2 separate regions of the Homo sapiens genome follow, and region 2 is linked to region 1. Evidence: fine-mapped expression QTL. Tissue or cell type: whole blood. Region 1 holds a variant in brackets; the other region holds the start of a gene. All regions are shown on one strand. Distances are between the middles of the regions.

Region 1 (8,466 bases):
AGCTTAAAATTTGCTGTTTAGATTTCAGTTTCTAGTTATACCTGAGGTTGTTCCAGCTTGGTTAGGTTCAAGCCGGTGAAAGGCAGGCTGGTACTAATGATTCTTGTAAAGATTGCCATTCACATACCCTGCTGTATGCTTGATTGAGTTTCATGAAGCCTTCAAAAAGTAGTGATTTGGTTATGCTCTGAGTTTGAAAAAGGACCATTATTATACCAGATTTAAAATTGGATTTGGGTTAGCTCAGTTATCTGACTCATCACTAATTTTCTTTGACAATTAAGTCAATTCTTGGGTATACCTTGTATCTGAGTCTCAGTTTTCATTGAGAAATAAGATTTTATCTTTGCAAAGTTAGAAAAGGGAAAAGATAAAGCAGCAGGTCCTGTCAAAAGGAAAGGTGAATTCAATGTCAAATGGTGGGACTGTGAAATTAGAGAGCCAGGGGCTCTAATGAGGAGGAGTTCAAAGGACAGAGAACAAAGGGGTGAAGAAAATGACGGAAGGAAGAGGAAGTCAAATTGGCCTAGCTGAGCTGATATGTTTTCTCGATTTCTTGACCTCGTGATCCGCCCGCCCTGGTCTCCCAAAGTGCTGGGATTACAGGCGTGAGCCACTGCGCCTTGATGTGTTTTCTCTTAGAAACCTTTCGAGGATCTAGCAGTACTCTACTTTGCACAAAAAAAGAAATACTTCAATTAATCATTTTATTTAAGGTAGAGTCATACAATGTATGTGATTTTTAAAAAAATGATAGCCTAGTTAAAATGTAGCTAGAATCCTTTATATCAGCTGGTGTCTGTAAATATGCTCACATTCTTACACAGACACTTCATGACTTCTGCTCCAAGCTCAGAGTTAAGACGAGCGAGAAGCTTCATTTGTCCCTAAGTCTTGAACTGTTTGTAATAAGCGATTACTCCTACTTTAAGTTAAATTTCCCATGTTGAGCCAGCCTAGAATGTTGATGCTGGAAGGTACTTCCCGGCTCATTCATCTCTACCCCTCATTTGGCAGATGAGAACACACCATTCAGCCGATGAGAACACAGGCATCAGAACCCAAATGATAAGCCTATTCATTTTATTTTAAAGACTGTGAATTTCACAAGAGATTTTTTAGATGAAATTGTATAGATGCCTTCAAAAAATCATTAATAGAATATTATTCCCTCTCATATCATCCGAATAAACTCATCATTGCCATAAATGTTTTGAATAAAGCCACAACAAAATATGAGCTGTCCTTTGAACCTCACTTTCAATGTCTTCAAAGCTACTCTTCTGGGCTTTGCAAACTCCTTGGCAAAATTAGTCTTTTAAGTCTGAATAGAAAATATCTTCACAGTGAAACTGTATTAGTTAGGGTAACCTCACTGCTGTTAATGAATAAAACTCTTAATCAATAGCCTTGTAAGATACTTGCAAGTAGCAGTGACATGGAAGAAAACCTCTCAGGAAGAATACTATGTCTTTCACACACGGGCCATTTTTCCTGTTACATAAACACTGTGGTCCTTGTTGCTGTTTACCTTTTTTGGGATTAGAAGGGCAAAAGTAAGATAGATGTCCTTCTGGGATGTGCACTGGCTCCCAAGCTAAGCCTTTCACTATGGTGCCATGAATTTATGTAATCTTGGGTCAAGGCCTGCTGTCAGGCAAAAATTAAGCTTTATCAGGTCACTCAAAGTTGATGGACAGCAAAGCACTGATTTGTTTCAACTGATTAATGAAGGACCAATTGTCTAAACCAGAATCCTAGACTCAGGATAGCTCAGGGATTATGACCACGGGCTTTGGACTCAGAACTATGTCCTTATCTTCACTCTGCCACTATGTGGAGCAATGTGATCTTGGACAACTGACCTAATCTTGCTAAGCCTCAGTTTCCTCATCTAGAAAACGGAGATACTACGTACCTCAGAGAATAACTGCAAAGACTAAATTAGATTGTAAAGTGTTTAGTGGCTGTCAGGTGCAAAGTAAACACTGATGTTGCTATTATGATTCTGAAAGTGGTTGTTTTATTGGGAGACATTCTTTGAAATGCCTGAAAGATTCATGTATAACATGCAGGATCAGGGCATAAACCTGAAGTTGCTCAGTGAAGATGAAATCTGATCAAGGCCACAGACAGGGGCAATAGATTAGCAGTACCTCCTCAGAGAGAGAATCTTTCTAGGGCTGAATTCCTGTTTGTCTGAGTCAGTGTCTCACTCCTTTGCATGTGCCTGCTCTATCATAGATATTCAATAAATATTTTCGCACTGACTGAGCATGCTGGACAACAATGTATACTTTTTGCTCACTGGGTTTTCTTTTTCTATGCTTCATTCTCACCATCTCATGATAAAATTGATTCAGTTTTTATTCACTAAATTCAATCAATTTCAAATCTGCTTCCCAGAAATTAAACTTAGGTGACCTTGATTGCAGTCCTGGGTATTCTAAAACATTCTCATTCTTTTTTTTATTTTTTAGATGGGGTCTCACTGTCATCCGGGCTGGAGTAGAATGGCGTGATCTCGGCTCACTGCAACGTCTGTCTCCCAGGTTCGAGCGATTCTTGTGCCTCAGCCTTCTGAGTAGCTGGAATTACAAACATGCACCACCATAACCGGCTAATTTTTGTATTTTTAGTAGAGATGAGGCTTCACCATGTTGACCAGGCTGGTCTCAAACCCCTGACCTCAAGTGATTCATCTGCTTTGGCCTCCCAAAGTGCTGGGATTACAGGCGTGAGCCACCATGCCTGGCCACGTTCTCATTCGTTAATTCCACTTAAAAAATTGCAACTCATAGGCTGGCGGTGGCTCACACCTGTAATCCCAGTACTTTGGGAGGCAAGGTGGGTGGATCACGAGGTCAGGAGATGGAGACCACCCTGGCTAATATGGTGAAACCCCATCTCCACTAAAAATACAAAAAATTAGCCAGGCATGGTGGCGGGCACCTGTAGTCCCAGCTACTCGGGAGGCTGAGGCAGGAGAAGGGCATGAACCTGGGAGATGGAGCTTGCAGTGAGCCGAGATCGTGCCACTGCACTCCAGCCTGGGCCACAGAGCGAGACTCTGTCTCAAAAAAAAAAAAAAAATTACAACTCATAAATACTTACACAAAGACATATGACTTAAATGTAAAACCTAAAACTACAAAAAACCTAGAAGAAAACCTAGGAAATACCATTCTGGACACAGGCCCTGGAAAGAGTTCATGATAAAGACTCCAGAAGCAATTGCAACCAACAAAAAAATTGATAAGTGGGACCTAATTAAACCAAGAGCATCTGCACAGCAAAAGAAACTATCAACAGAGTAAACAGACAACCTACAGAATGGGAGAAAATATTTGCAAACTATGCATCTGACAAAGGTCTAATATCCAGAATCTGTAAGGAACTTAAGCAAATCAATAAGCAAAAAATAAATAACCCCATTAAAAAATGGGCAAAGGACATGAACAGATACTCTCAAAAGAACACATACACATGGGCAAGCATGTGAAAAAATTCTCAACATCACTAATCATTAGAGAAATACAAATCAAAGCCACAATGAGACACCATCTCACACCAGTCATAATGGCAATTAATAAAAAGTCAAAAAATGACATGCTGGCAAAGTTGCAGAGAAAAGGGAACACTTAGACACTGCTGGTGGGAGTGTAAATTAGTTCAGCCACTGTGGAAAGCAATCTGGAGATTTCTCAAAGAACTTAAAACAGAACTACCACTTGACCCAGCAATCCCGTTATTGGGTATGTACCCAACGGAATATAAATTGTTCTACCATAAAGACACATGCACATGTATGTTCATCACAGCACTATTCACAATAGCAAAGACATGGAATCAGCCCAAACCAGGATTAAGATGGCGAATAGGAGGCAGGACTAGCTTGCAGCTCCTGCTCATATGGAGAGAGCAGCATGTGGAGACTCACATCATGAGCTTTTTTGCTACAATTCTTGTAGCACAGGAACATACCAGGAAAGCCGAGGGAATCCACAGACGTTTGAAGCAACTGGATCACTGCTTCAGGCTCCCTGAGATGCTGAAAAACTGAGTCAACTTGCTTTCTCAGGCACATACCAGGAAAGCCGAGAGAATCCACAGACAGTTTGAAGGAACTGGATCACTGCTGCAGGCTCCCTGAGATGCTGAAAAACTGTGAGTTAACTTGTTTTCTCAGCCGGGAGGCTCATGGTCTGGGGCAAGTTCTCAGCCCTGGTCATGGGCTGCCTAGAAATAGACTTGGTGCTGTTGCAGGGCCTCGGTGGGAGTGAGACCAGCCTTTAGGACTGTGGGCTGAGTGGGAGTGAAGTGAGGCCTGTGACTGCCAGCTTTCCCCCACTTCCCTGGCAACCTGTATGACTCAGCAGAAGCAGCCATAATCCTCCAGGGAATATAGCTCCCTTGGACTGGGAGCCACACACCCATTCCCCACAGCAGCTGCAGCAAACTCCGCCCAAGGAGAGGCTCAGCTCAGACACACTATCCCTGTCCCCACTAGATGGTCTTTCTCTACCTGCCCTGGTAGCGGAAGATAAAGGTCATAATCTCTTGGGAGCTCTATGGCCCTGCCCACTGCCTGAGAAACCTGAATACTTAACCAGGTCTCCCTAGGGTAAATTTGCATCCTCCTTACAGGGCCGCAGCTGATAAACTCTTGAAAGTGGCACTTCCTGCCTGGAGCTTAACCAACACAAAACCAGTGCACTAAACAAAAACACAACCAAAGATCCTCACAGAGTCCACTTCAGTCTCCTGCTACCTCCACTGGAGCAGGTGCTGGTATCCATGCCTGCAAGGCCTGAAAACGGATCACATCACAGGACTCTTTGCAGACACTCCTCAGTACCAGCCCAGAGCCTGGTAGCTCTGCTGGGTGGTAAGACCCAGAAAAGCAAAAACAACCATTACAGTTCAGCTCTCAGGAAGCCACATTCCTAGGGGAAGGGGGAGAACACCACATCAAGGGAGCACCCCATGGGACAAAAGAATCTGAAGAGCAGCCCTTGAATCCCAGGTCTTCCCTCTGACATAGTCTACCCAAATGAGAAGGAACCAGAAACACACTTCTGGTAGTATGACAA[AAC/A]ACAGTTCTTTAACACGCCCAAAAGATCATACCAGCTCACCAGCAATGGATCCAAACCAAGACAGAATCTCTGAACTGCCAAAAAAAGAATTCAGAATTAAGCTAATACAGGAGGCACCAGAGAAAGATAAAATCCAACTTAAAGAAATGAAAAACATGATACAGGATATGAAAGGAAAATTCTTCAGTGAAACAGATAGCATAAATAAAAAACAATCGCAACTTATGCAAATCAAGGACACATTTAGAGAAATGCAAAGTGCACTGGAAAGTCTCCGCAATACAATCGAACAAGCAGAAGAAACAACTCCAGAGCTTGGAGACAAGGCTTTTGAATTAACACAATCCATCAAAGACAAAGAGAAAGGAATTTTTTAAAATAAACAAAGCCTCCAAGAAGTTTGGGACTATGTTAAACCTTCCAAATAATTGGTGAGTAATTGGTGTTCCAGAGGAAGAAGAGAAATCTAAAAGTCTGGAAAACATATTTGCGCTAATAATCGATGAAAATTTCCCTGGCTTTGCTAGAGATCTAGACATCCAAATACAAGAAGCTCAAAGAACACCTGGGAAATTCATCACAAAAAGAACACCCTCTAGGCACATAATCATCAGGTTACCTAAAGTCAAGACAAAGGAAAGAATCTTAAGAGTTGTGAGGCAAAAGCATCAGGTAACCTGCAAAGGAAAACTTAACAGATTAGCAGCAGATTTCTCAGCAGAAACCCTATGAGCTAGAAGGGATTGGGGACCTATTTTTTAGCCTCCTTAAACAAAACAATTATCAGCCAAGAATTTTGTATCCAGCAAAACTGAGCTTCATAAATGAAGGAAAGATACAGTCTTTTCCAAACAAACAAATGCCGAGAGAATCTGCCACTACCAAGACAGCACTACAAGAACTGCTAAAAGGAGCTCTAAATCTTGAAGCAAATCCTTGAAATACACCAAAACAGAACCTCCTTGGAGCATAAATCTCACAGGACCTATATAACAATAACACAATGAAAAAAGCCAAGGTATTCAGGCAACAAATGCACAATGAATAGAATAGTAACTCACATCTCAGCACTAACATTCAATGTAAATGTCCTAAATGCTCCACTTAAAAGATACAGAACAGTAGAATGAATAAGAATTCACCAGCCAAGTTTCTGTGTCTTCAGGAGACTCACCTAACCCTTAAGGACTCATATAAACACACGTAAGGACTCATATAAACTTAAGGTAAAGGGGTGGAAAAAGATATTCCATGCAAATGGACACCAAAAGCAAGCAGGAATAGCTATTCTTATATCAGACAAAACAAACTTTAAAGCAACAACAGTTTAAAAAGACAAAGTGGGACATTATATAATGATAAAAGGACTAGCCCAACAGGAGAATATCACAATTCTAAATATATATGCACTTAACACTGGAGCTCCCAAATTTATAAAGCAATTACTATGACCTAATAAATGAGATAGATGGTAACACAATAATAATGGGGGACTATACTCCACTGACAGCACTAGACAGGTCATCAAGACAGAAAGTCAACAAAGAAACAGTGAACCTAAATCTAAATGTACCCTACGACAAATGGACTTAACAGATATTTACAGAACAGTCTACCAAGCAACTGAAGAATATGCTTTTTTTTTTTTTTTTGAGACAGAGTCTCCTTCTGTCACCAGGTTGGAGTGCAATGGCATGATCTTGGCTCCGGCTCACTGCTGCAACCTCCACCTCTTGGGTTCAAGCAATTCTCCTGCCTCAGCCTCCCAAGTAGCTGGGATTACAGGTGCCTGCCACCACACCCGGCTAATTTTTATCTTTTATTTTTTTGTATTTTTAGTAGAGATGGGGTTCCAATCGCTTCTTGGCCTTTTGGCTAAGATCAAGTGGAGATGGGTTTTCGACATGTTGGCCAGGCTGGTCTTGAACTCCTGAACTCAGGTGATCCACCTGCCTTGGCCTTCCAAAGTGCTGGGATTATAGGTGTGAGCCACTGTGCCTGGCCCTAGAATATACATTCTATTCATCAGCACATGGATCATTCTCCAAGAGAGATCATATGATAGGCCAACACACAAGTCTCAGTAAATTTAAGAAAACTGAAATTATATCAAGTACTCTCTCAGACCACAGTGGAATAAAATTGGAAAACAACTTCAAAAGGAACTCTCAAAACCATGCAAATATGTGGAAATTAAATAACTTGCTCCTGAACGTTGGGTCAACAATGAAATCAGGATGGAAATTAAAAAATTCTTTGAACTGAATGATAATAGTGACATAACCTATCAAAACCTCTGGGATACAGCAAAAGCATTGCTAAGAGGAAAGTTCATTAAATGCCCACACCAAAAAGACTGAAAGAGCACAAATAAATAATCTAAGGTCAGACCTCATGGAACTGGAGAAACAAGAATAATTCAAACCCAAATCCAGCAGAAGGAAAGAAAGAACTAAGATCAGAGGAGAACTAAATAAAATTGGGAAAAAATACAAAAGATAAATGAAACAAAAAGCTGGTTCTTTGAAAAGATAAATAAAATTGATAGACCATTAGTGAGATTAACCAAGAAAAGAAGAGAGACAATCCAAATAAGCTCAATTAGAAACGAAATGGGAGATATTAGTACTGACAGCACAGAAATACAAAAGATTATTCAAGGCTATCATGAACACCTTTATGCCCATAAACTAGAAAACCTAGAGGGGATAGATAAATTCCTGGAAATATACAATCCCCTTGATTAAACCAGGAAAATATAGAATGTCTGAACAGACCAATAACAAGCAGCAAGATTGAAAGGGTAATAAAAAACTGCCAACAAAAAATGTCCAGGACCAGAGAGATTCAAAGCTGAATTCTATCAGATATTCAAAGAATTGGTACCAAACCTATTGACACTATTACAAAAGACGGAGAAAAGAGACTCCTCCCTAAATCATTCTATGAAGCCAGTATCACCCTAATATTAAAATGAAGGAAGGACGTAACAAAAAAGAAAACTACAGACCAATATCCCAGATGAACATAGATGCAAAAATCCTCAACAAAATGCTAGTGAACCAAATCCAACAGCATATCAAAAAGATAATCCACCATGATCAAAAGGGTTTTATACTAGGGATGCAGGGATGGTTTAACATGTGTAAGTCAATAAATGTGATACACCACTTAAACAGAATTAAAAACAAAAATCACTTGATCATCTCAATATATGCAGAAAAAACATTTGACAAAATCCAGTACCCATTATGATTAAAAACCTCAGCAAAATTGACATCAAGGGACATACCTTAACATAGTAAAATCCATCTATCACAAACCCACAGTCAATATTATACCAAATGGGGAAAAGTTGAAAGCATTCCCC
Region 2 (8,191 bases), 52 kb before region 1:
GTCTTCTATTTTAGGGCAAAAAAATTCTGGCTGATGTCAAGTACATGTTATTACTTGCCCCCAAAATATAAACTTAATAAACCTGGGGAGTTACTTACTTACAAACTCTCCCCAAATTTTAACATGCTTGATAAGTTTAAACTATTAAGTTTTACCAGTGAGGCTAAATGTATCTATTATTTCCAGAGGAAAATGAAGATCAAATTTTAAGTAGCATACTCAGTATCATTCAGAAAAGGCCAAATTAAATTATTTAAGGTGTTTGCTTACTGATAACTTCACCGTAGTAGCCTTGTTTTTAATTGCGTCTAAAAAAATAGGTTTACGATTTCTAATTGCTCTTCTATGATGCAATTCAAAGGTGTATAACCCAAAATATATGTATATGTCAAATTTTATATTCACTACCACTAGATGTCAGTAGTGCTGTATCGTATAAAATATTCTGGTTTTTTGTCTTGTGTTTGACGCTTCTTTTCAGCGTATAGTGCAGCTAAGGTTTAAAGAGATTTGTCACTATTTCAAAGTCATCTAATTTTCTTATAAATCCTTATAAACATCAACTCACACCAGAATACGAGTAACTTTTAGGATAATCACAGGGAGCTGGTAGAGCCATAGCATTAATTATAACTCACAGCAGCTTCAACTCCCCTCACATGGTAGAGCTGTTATTAAAATTAGATGTGCCAAGTCAGCTATGTGAGGCTACAGAAGCACTCTCTATTTACAAAATATTCGTATGCGTTAACACATTAAAATGTATTTGTAAATCAATTAGATGTCATAATAAAACTCAATTTCAAAAGTTTATTTTGAAAAAGTAGGGAGACTTCTTTAGTGCAATTAAGAGTTTCTATAATGCTGACAACAGTCTGGAGACACCTGAATTTCTGGACCAAGTATACAAACTAAATGTAATTTCCTACTTTTCAAATCTAAGTCTCAGACACAATCTTTGAAAATATTTCAGTGAATGGACAACTTACTCCAAAATCCTCATCTAATTATCTTTTCCCCAGCAAAGTTCCTAACTGAAAAATGAACGGATGTTAATTTTTCCTTCTTTATGCTGAGTAGTGAAATGGTTAGAATACAAGCAAGAAAAAAAAGAAAAGAGATCCAAAGGTCAAACACACACCAAAAGGGACTAAAATAACCAAGTGATTCGAACAATTTAACAATCTGAAACACCACAGGATTATGATTTGACATGTCAAGCAGTTTAAGAGACTTTTAAGTTTAATAAAGCTGAAAGTGAGTTCATACGAATATTCTATCGTAGAAACAAAATCAGGATCTAAGAGGCCAGGTCATAGATGCTGTAGAGTAGGTAAAACTAAAGCAGTGCTTCTCCATAGTGCTGGGCAGTTCACAAAAACCACCTTAATAGCCATTATGGACTAACTTTTATTCAAAATGTTAAAAGAAACTGCTTAATAAGTTGTAATGTGGCATGCAACTTTAACCAAAAGAATGCCTTACTCACCTCTACCAGCTCTGCCGACAGCCACATTGTATGTTGGCTCCCCACCTTGACTCTTTGTCCGGATGTCCATTGTGCAGTCACCATCGACGTATAGACTATCTCTGATCACTGAGCATTTCTTCGCGCCAAGAGTCAAACCGTTGGTAAAGAAACCTTCCCGGTCTTTTCCTACAATCATATCTATTTCTATTGGCTGCCCCCCACCAAAAAGAAAAAAAAAAAACACACACACATTAAGTTGTAGTTAACTCCTTTTAGGGCTTGATGTAACAGGAAGGGCTGTAGCTAGGCTTATGCTACCACTGCCAGATAGCCACATTTCACTAATGTAAAACCAAGATTCAGTCTTTTCTAAATAATTATTTAATCCTATATAATCACATATTTTACATGAGTTGATTTGACTTCAGTTAATGATGTCGTCTCTTAACCAAGACCAGTCTATACAAAGAAACTGTAAAGAGTTGACAGTTGACACTAGACAAAGTGCAAACTTAAAGAGTTATTTATAAACTGTATTAAGTCAGCTGGTGCCTGAAAGTGTTCACGTAATGGTAAAAATTCAGCTATCAACTCTGAACAAAGCTGGTCTATCATATTCAGTCCCATTACAGTAAATCATGTTTCATCAAATTTAAAGTTGCTTCAAAGTCTCCCAAAATAAAGCCTGTTCTTTGATGTGTTCACTTCTCTGCTTAGAGTAACTAGAAATATACGTGATGAGATGGACTTCAACCCCTGGACATCAGTGCTTTTCCAAATTCATATTTCCCTCCTATTTTTCTAGCCACGACTCCCGTTTCTTTCCAACTTCCCTTCCCCTCCCATCTCAGTAATCAGTTTTCTTTCTGGGCAAACGCAAAGTGGATTCTGTCTACAGCACTGCGGTAGGCAATAGTAAAACAGAAAAAATGGAGGGAGATTGGGAAAGAAACTGAGGTAGCCACCAGAACCGGAAAGGAGAAAACGTGCATTCTAACATTCCATGAATAAGAAGGAAGGCGTCGCCCCCATCAGAACTGCAGAGTCATAGCAGGCCCCAGCCATTTCCAAGCACACTCCCGCAATCTTCCTAGTCAGACAGCGGGAACTCACACACAAAGACAAGAGGACTGCAGGAAAAAAGTTGATGACCAGATGCCAATTCCCTACAAGAATTGTAGTCCACTGCGGGTATACGAGACCTTAAAGTACTACTATCAAGGACTGAGTTCTAAAGTTAGACTTTAAACCATGTTAAGTGGTAAAAGAATAATTAGCACCCTTAATAGGGGACCTGAATTTTGGTGCTTAATGGAAAGGGAGCGTGGTGCTAAGAAATAAAGAGAATGGTCTCGTATTTAGTACAATTATCATAATTTTAGAAACAGCCTTGGGCAGAAACAGGCAAAACAATAAGCTGGAGGTTTTGTGGCAAATATTCTCCAAACATATTGCAACCAACTCAAAACCATCAAGTCTCAAGAAAATCAGGCAATGTGAAGCATAAAACTGCATTAGTTCCTTTACTGCCACCACTAAAGAGGGAGGGACTTAGAGAAGTGAAGTGTGCTCCTGGTCTTCGCAGATAATTGAAAGCCCCCGAAAAGCACCCCTTTTTTGAGCTATGTTGCATAACTGGGGATAACCGTATATCGATGAATCTCCATATGAGAAGAGAAATCAATGGCAGTTCGCCATCTTGGAGAATTTAAAAAAAAAAAAAAAACAACCTATAGAGCTAGAGCTGAAGTCGAGATTCACGAATCCACCTACGCGGTCGGCGTACATCTCTCGCAAGCCCCAGAGGCCTGGACATCGGTAAACCTACGCAAAGTCGCTTCGAGAATCCCGGGGGCCGGGCCGGGGCCGCCGCCTCCCACAGCCGGAGGCGCGGGAGGCGCGCTGTCCGCGGAGCAAGAGCCGGCCAGAGAGCCTAGGGACCTCCACCCGGGGCCCGCGCGCCCCAGCCCGGATCCCCGACCCCCGCTTCCACCCCAGAACGTGCATAGCAAACCTCAGGGCTTCAAGAGAACCTAGGGGAACCGCACTAGGAGGAAAAAAGGAACCCCTCCCCTTGCCCTGGCCGGTGCGTGCCCCCTCCCCCAACCCGGGCACCTGGACCGACGCTGGGAACGCCGGGGGCGCCCGGCCAGGGCCAGCAAGGAGTCCGGCCGCCGCCCCCAGCCTGTCAGCGCAGCCCCGGGTGAGGGGGCGTCCCCGGGCCTCGGCCTCCCCGCCCGCCCGGCAGCCGCATCCTCGGCGCCCGCTGCCTAGCACACCTGCGGGCTCGGCCCTCAGTGTTCCAGCCCCGCGCTGCGGTGCCCCCGCGGCCGGCCACCCCGCTCCGGTGCAGGGACCAGGGTACCGGCCGCCACTGGTCCTCACCGTAATGCTCTGAAAGACGCCCCCGGCCGTGGCTGCCCAGACGTATTTGGCGTCGCAGTAGCCGACAATGGCGGCCTCCTGGCAGCAGCCATCGCACATCAGGTTATCCACGTAGCTCTGCCAACCGGCCATCTTCGAGCCCTTCGCACTGCAGCGCGGACGGCGAGGAGCAGCAGGCGCAGCGGCGGCGGCGGCGGTAGCGGGCGGCGGCGGCGCGGGGGGAGGCGGGGCGGGGGCGGGGAGGAGGCGGCTCTGCGCAGGCACCGACCGCCCCCCTCCCCGAGGAGCTGCGGCGGGAGGACGCGGGTTCAGCGATGAGGGACGAACCTCAGAGCGCGCTCGGCCGCCCGGCCGCCCGCAGCCGCGGGGCTGACAAACCAGCGGCGGGAGGCTGCGAAGCGGCTGTGCCTGTGGCGGCTGCTCCTTACCGCAGCGCCCTCCGTTTTCCGCGGACACGGCTGGGCGTGCGCGCGCGCGTGCGTGCGATCCTTCCGCGGCGCCCGGGCACGGAGGGTCCCGGGAAGGGCGGGGGGAGACTGAGGCGGGGGCGCGGAGGGATACCGCCCCGGGACAATCACGGCCGCCACGTGCGGGAGGCGCCGGCCGGGAGCGGTGGCGGGCCGAGCTTCGGACCTCGGGCCGGCGGAGAGGGTGGACCCCGCGTCGCTCTCGGCACCCCAGGAACAGCGGCGGCACGGACGCCTTGGAGCCCCGCGGCCGGGCCGCGATGTGCTTTTCTCCTGTGTTCGCTGCCCGGGATGCGGAATCTTGAGCCTCGGTGTCGGGTTACAGAGTTGTCCTGGTGACGGGATGCGGAGCGTTTCCTCCTTTTTGTTGTGGGGGCGGCTGGTGGCAGGGGCAGCTGGTGGCAGGGTTGCCCACGCTAATCTCCGAGTCTCTAAGGGCACCGTCTTTCCTGGATCCCTCTTGCGCCTCGTCCATAAAGGCAGACCCGCGGGCGCGCGCCGGCAACCTGAAATCAGAGCAGGCGTCCGTGGCGCTCAGGAACCTTGCTGAGCTTCGCCGATCTTTCATTGTTGCTTCATTTGGGTACCAAGGGCCTCTCATTCTGTGGATTCTTTGCCTGGAGGAGCCCCCTTAATGTTGCTAATCACGTGTGGTTAAATTGCTCGTAAATTCCGAACAAAACAAATAGCGACCTGTGTTACACTGTTTCTTGGTAACTGGGAAAGTTACTGGTGGCTTGAAGTATACGCAGAAAATACAAAGATTAAAAACTAGGGAAGAGTTCACTGAATGAACACCGTAACATTTCTGCTCTGCAGGGTAAAATAATTTCGGGACCCAGGTCTGGGAAAGATTTGTATTAACAAGGTAAACGGTGGGTAGAGTGCCTGAGAAGCTATTCGTATCGTCTTTGGTAGCCTCTGGGCACTAGGACTAGACATGGAATTAGGGGTCCCCCAACAATGACTTCAATTTTAGGTTAATAGAAACCATCTGCCACTTAAGGGAAAGAAAGCACCAAAATGTAGATAAGTTGATGTTCACCCTTAAAGTTATCGTGTGAGGTCATGATTTGTAGGAGGATTAAGGAATGTATCTCTGGAAAGGGCAAGAACGTTGCTTTTAAAAGTCTAATTGGTTCTGAAGTTTTATATTTTTTCTGCTGATTGCTTTAAAATGTTCAGCTACTAGAGAGAAAAAAAGTACAGTAAAAGAAACCCCCAAGTCAGAGACCTATCAGACTGAGAATATGTATTTTCTCATGTTCTAAAGATACAGAATACCTGTGTGGTGTAAAATGTGAACCAAAAATTGTTTCATTTTTGTAAGTGTGCCTCCCACCTGATTTAATTACACTTAATTGTTCTTGTTTATGACTCTGCCTTTTATGGTGATGTTGATCATTTTAGTCCTTCGATCATAGCACTGTATCATCTTAAAAGTTAATAATAGATTACTTGTAACACAGGCTCACTATGTGAGAATTCATCAAGCTGTATGTACATTTATTGTGCTCTTCATTGTATGTATAATTCAATAAATTGAAACAGTAAACGAAAAGGTAATTATAGAAAAAATACAGTGATAACTTGAAGTATGTTGAATTTTTATTAATTTACTCTGAAGGTTTTAAGATATAATTTCTAGACGTTACTATCTTATTGTTATAGCACAGAGTTGGAAATAACTACATTCTTTTCCTATTCTTTTATTGTTGGCTTTAAACAGTGAAAGAATTTGACCAACAATATTTTCTAATTCAAATCTCAAAAGATTCTAAAACACATTTCTTGGGTAAAATATTCACAAAAATTTAGAATTCTTGTCATTCTTCTATATTTTTCAAAATATAATTCATTTTAAATTACTGCTTACTTTTCCAACATGATGTTATTTTTCTAGAATTGCAAACAGTAAAATTTAAACAACTATGAAAAAAATTCTGTATAATAGATTAAATTTTACAGTTTCAATTTTTAGGTTATATATTCAAAGAGAGTCCATGTGCTGTCTTGGTTTTCAGTACTGTAATAAAGTAACCTGTGCTTTTTTGTTTGTTTGTTTATTGAGATGAGACTCCGTCACCAGGGCTGGAGTGCAGTGGCATGATCTCGGCTCACTGCAACCTCCGCTTCCTGGGTTCAAGCGATTCTCCTGCCTCAGCCTCCCAAAAGTAGCTGGGATTACAGACACCCGCCACTACGCCCAGCTAATTTTTTGTATTTTTTGTAGAGACGGGGTTTCACCATGTTGGCCAGGCTGGTCTCAAACTCCTGACCTCGTTATTCGCCTGCCTCGGCCTCCCAAAGTGCTGGGATTACAGGCATGAGCCACCATGCCCGGCCACCTGTGCTTGTTTTCTTTAGAACCAGCTTCCTTGCATGCTGCTTTATTTTCCATTTGTGTACAGTGATCCCTTCCTATTTCATCTAAGTGTTGCTTATACGTTTCAGAAAGTATAAATAGAGGTGGAATACTGAGCTTTAGTAATAACAATATTGGTTCACTTAAGTCCAAAGGAGTATCAGTGTGAGAAAAAGAATTGCCAATTTGTATCTTCCTCTACTTTTCTGAGAGTAAGTAATCCCTAGGATAATTGTAATATCTGGGCAGAAGTTTAGAAAAGTTGTGGCTGTGTTGTTGATACAAATAGCCAGAATAATGTAGCCATTAACAATCAGTAGCATATTTAAGTTTGGAGTGCATTATTATGCATTCTTTCCAGAATTATTTTATTCTTATTGAGTAAAGCAGAAACTGTGTAGTAAGCCACGTTCTTTAATGTGTAAGTCAAGTGGTGTCTGAACCACTTGAGTCCATGTAAAAATCATTTGAAATTTTAGCAAAACACAAACAAGAAATTATCTTTAAAATGTACACAACCTGATAATCATTGGGAGCAGGATCTAAAACTATACACAGTAATTACCCCCAAATTTAGTAAAACCATAATTAACCATCAGTTATTTAAAAATTTCACCGCATAGTTCATTTCTGAAAAAAGTATATGAATTATAAAATCAATATCACAGCAATAAAGTTTAGAAAATGGAGAAAAATCCTTAATCCCACAAGCTAATACAAATATCTTTTGAATGTATTCACTATGTATGATTTTTACAGTAAAGAACAAGGAGAACTTATAATTCTGCATTTGGCCATTTTACCCTGAAATTCTATGAATTTTTGCTTTTTATATTTTGAGGCTATTAGGAAAATGGAAATTTAAATTGTTATATTTTTCCTTTCTGATGAATTTATTCTTTATTATTTAGTAGTTGCCCTCTTGATCACCAATACTGCTTTTTGTCTTAAAATTTTTGTCAAATATTAAGGTAACATCCCAGCTCTCTTTTTATTGGTGTTTACCTTATATATCTTTTCGCTCCCCACCTCTCTTTCAACCTTTCTCTGTCCTTTTTATTTTGTGTCTCATAAACTTCACGCAGCTGGATTTTGTTTTTTTATCCAATATGGCAGTATAACCTTTAATTGGCAAGTTTATTCCATTTACATTCATTGTAATTATTGACATACATTTGGACTTGTTTGAACTAATTTTATTAGTCTCTTTTTTTTTCTATGCTTTTTTCTTCCTTGCCTTTAAAAAAAATGTCGGGCATGTGTGTTTTATTCTTTTTTTTTTTTCAAATTTATGCTACCAATTTTTCTTAGTGTTACCCTTAAATTTTTGCCTTGCATATTTAATACAATAAAGTTTTAAGTTAAATATCTTAAACACTACCCCTAGACAATCCAAAAACCTTAGAATGTTTTAAGTCTGGACACCTCTCTCCAGACTCTTACACAGATGTTTATGTATGTGTGTATATATATGTACTTACATGTTTGTATTTTATTTACTTA

The links. PIP is the estimated chance that this variant, and not a neighbour inherited with it, causes the effect.
Region 2: PFN2 starts here. The variant in region 1 is fine-mapped to the expression of PFN2 in whole blood (INTERVAL, PIP 0.94).

Annotation. Positions count from the first base shown.
Region 1 is chr3:150,018,531-150,026,996 of GRCh38, forward strand. The region is part of intron 1 of LOC124909445 (a long non-coding RNA gene); the gene reads right to left. Among named protein-coding and RNA genes, the nearest start is that of PFN2, 52 kb to the left of the region's middle. RefSeq lists an enhancer at 3,829-5,028. The variant AAC/A (reference allele first, on the strand shown) is at 5,094.
Region 2 is chr3:149,966,869-149,975,059 of GRCh38, forward strand. PFN2 (profilin 2) reads right to left here and starts at 4,027. Exons shown (of 3, transcript NM_053024.4): 1 at 3,857-4,027; 2 at 1,490-1,682. The coding sequence starts at 3,988. It overlaps LOC646903 (a long non-coding RNA gene), which reads left to right and starts at 4,411. Exons shown (of 1, transcript NR_036538.1): 1 at 4,411-6,374. RefSeq lists silencers at 3,223-3,482, 3,503-3,552, 3,563-3,802, 4,013-4,092, 4,323-4,382 and enhancers at 4,228-4,759, 4,760-5,290.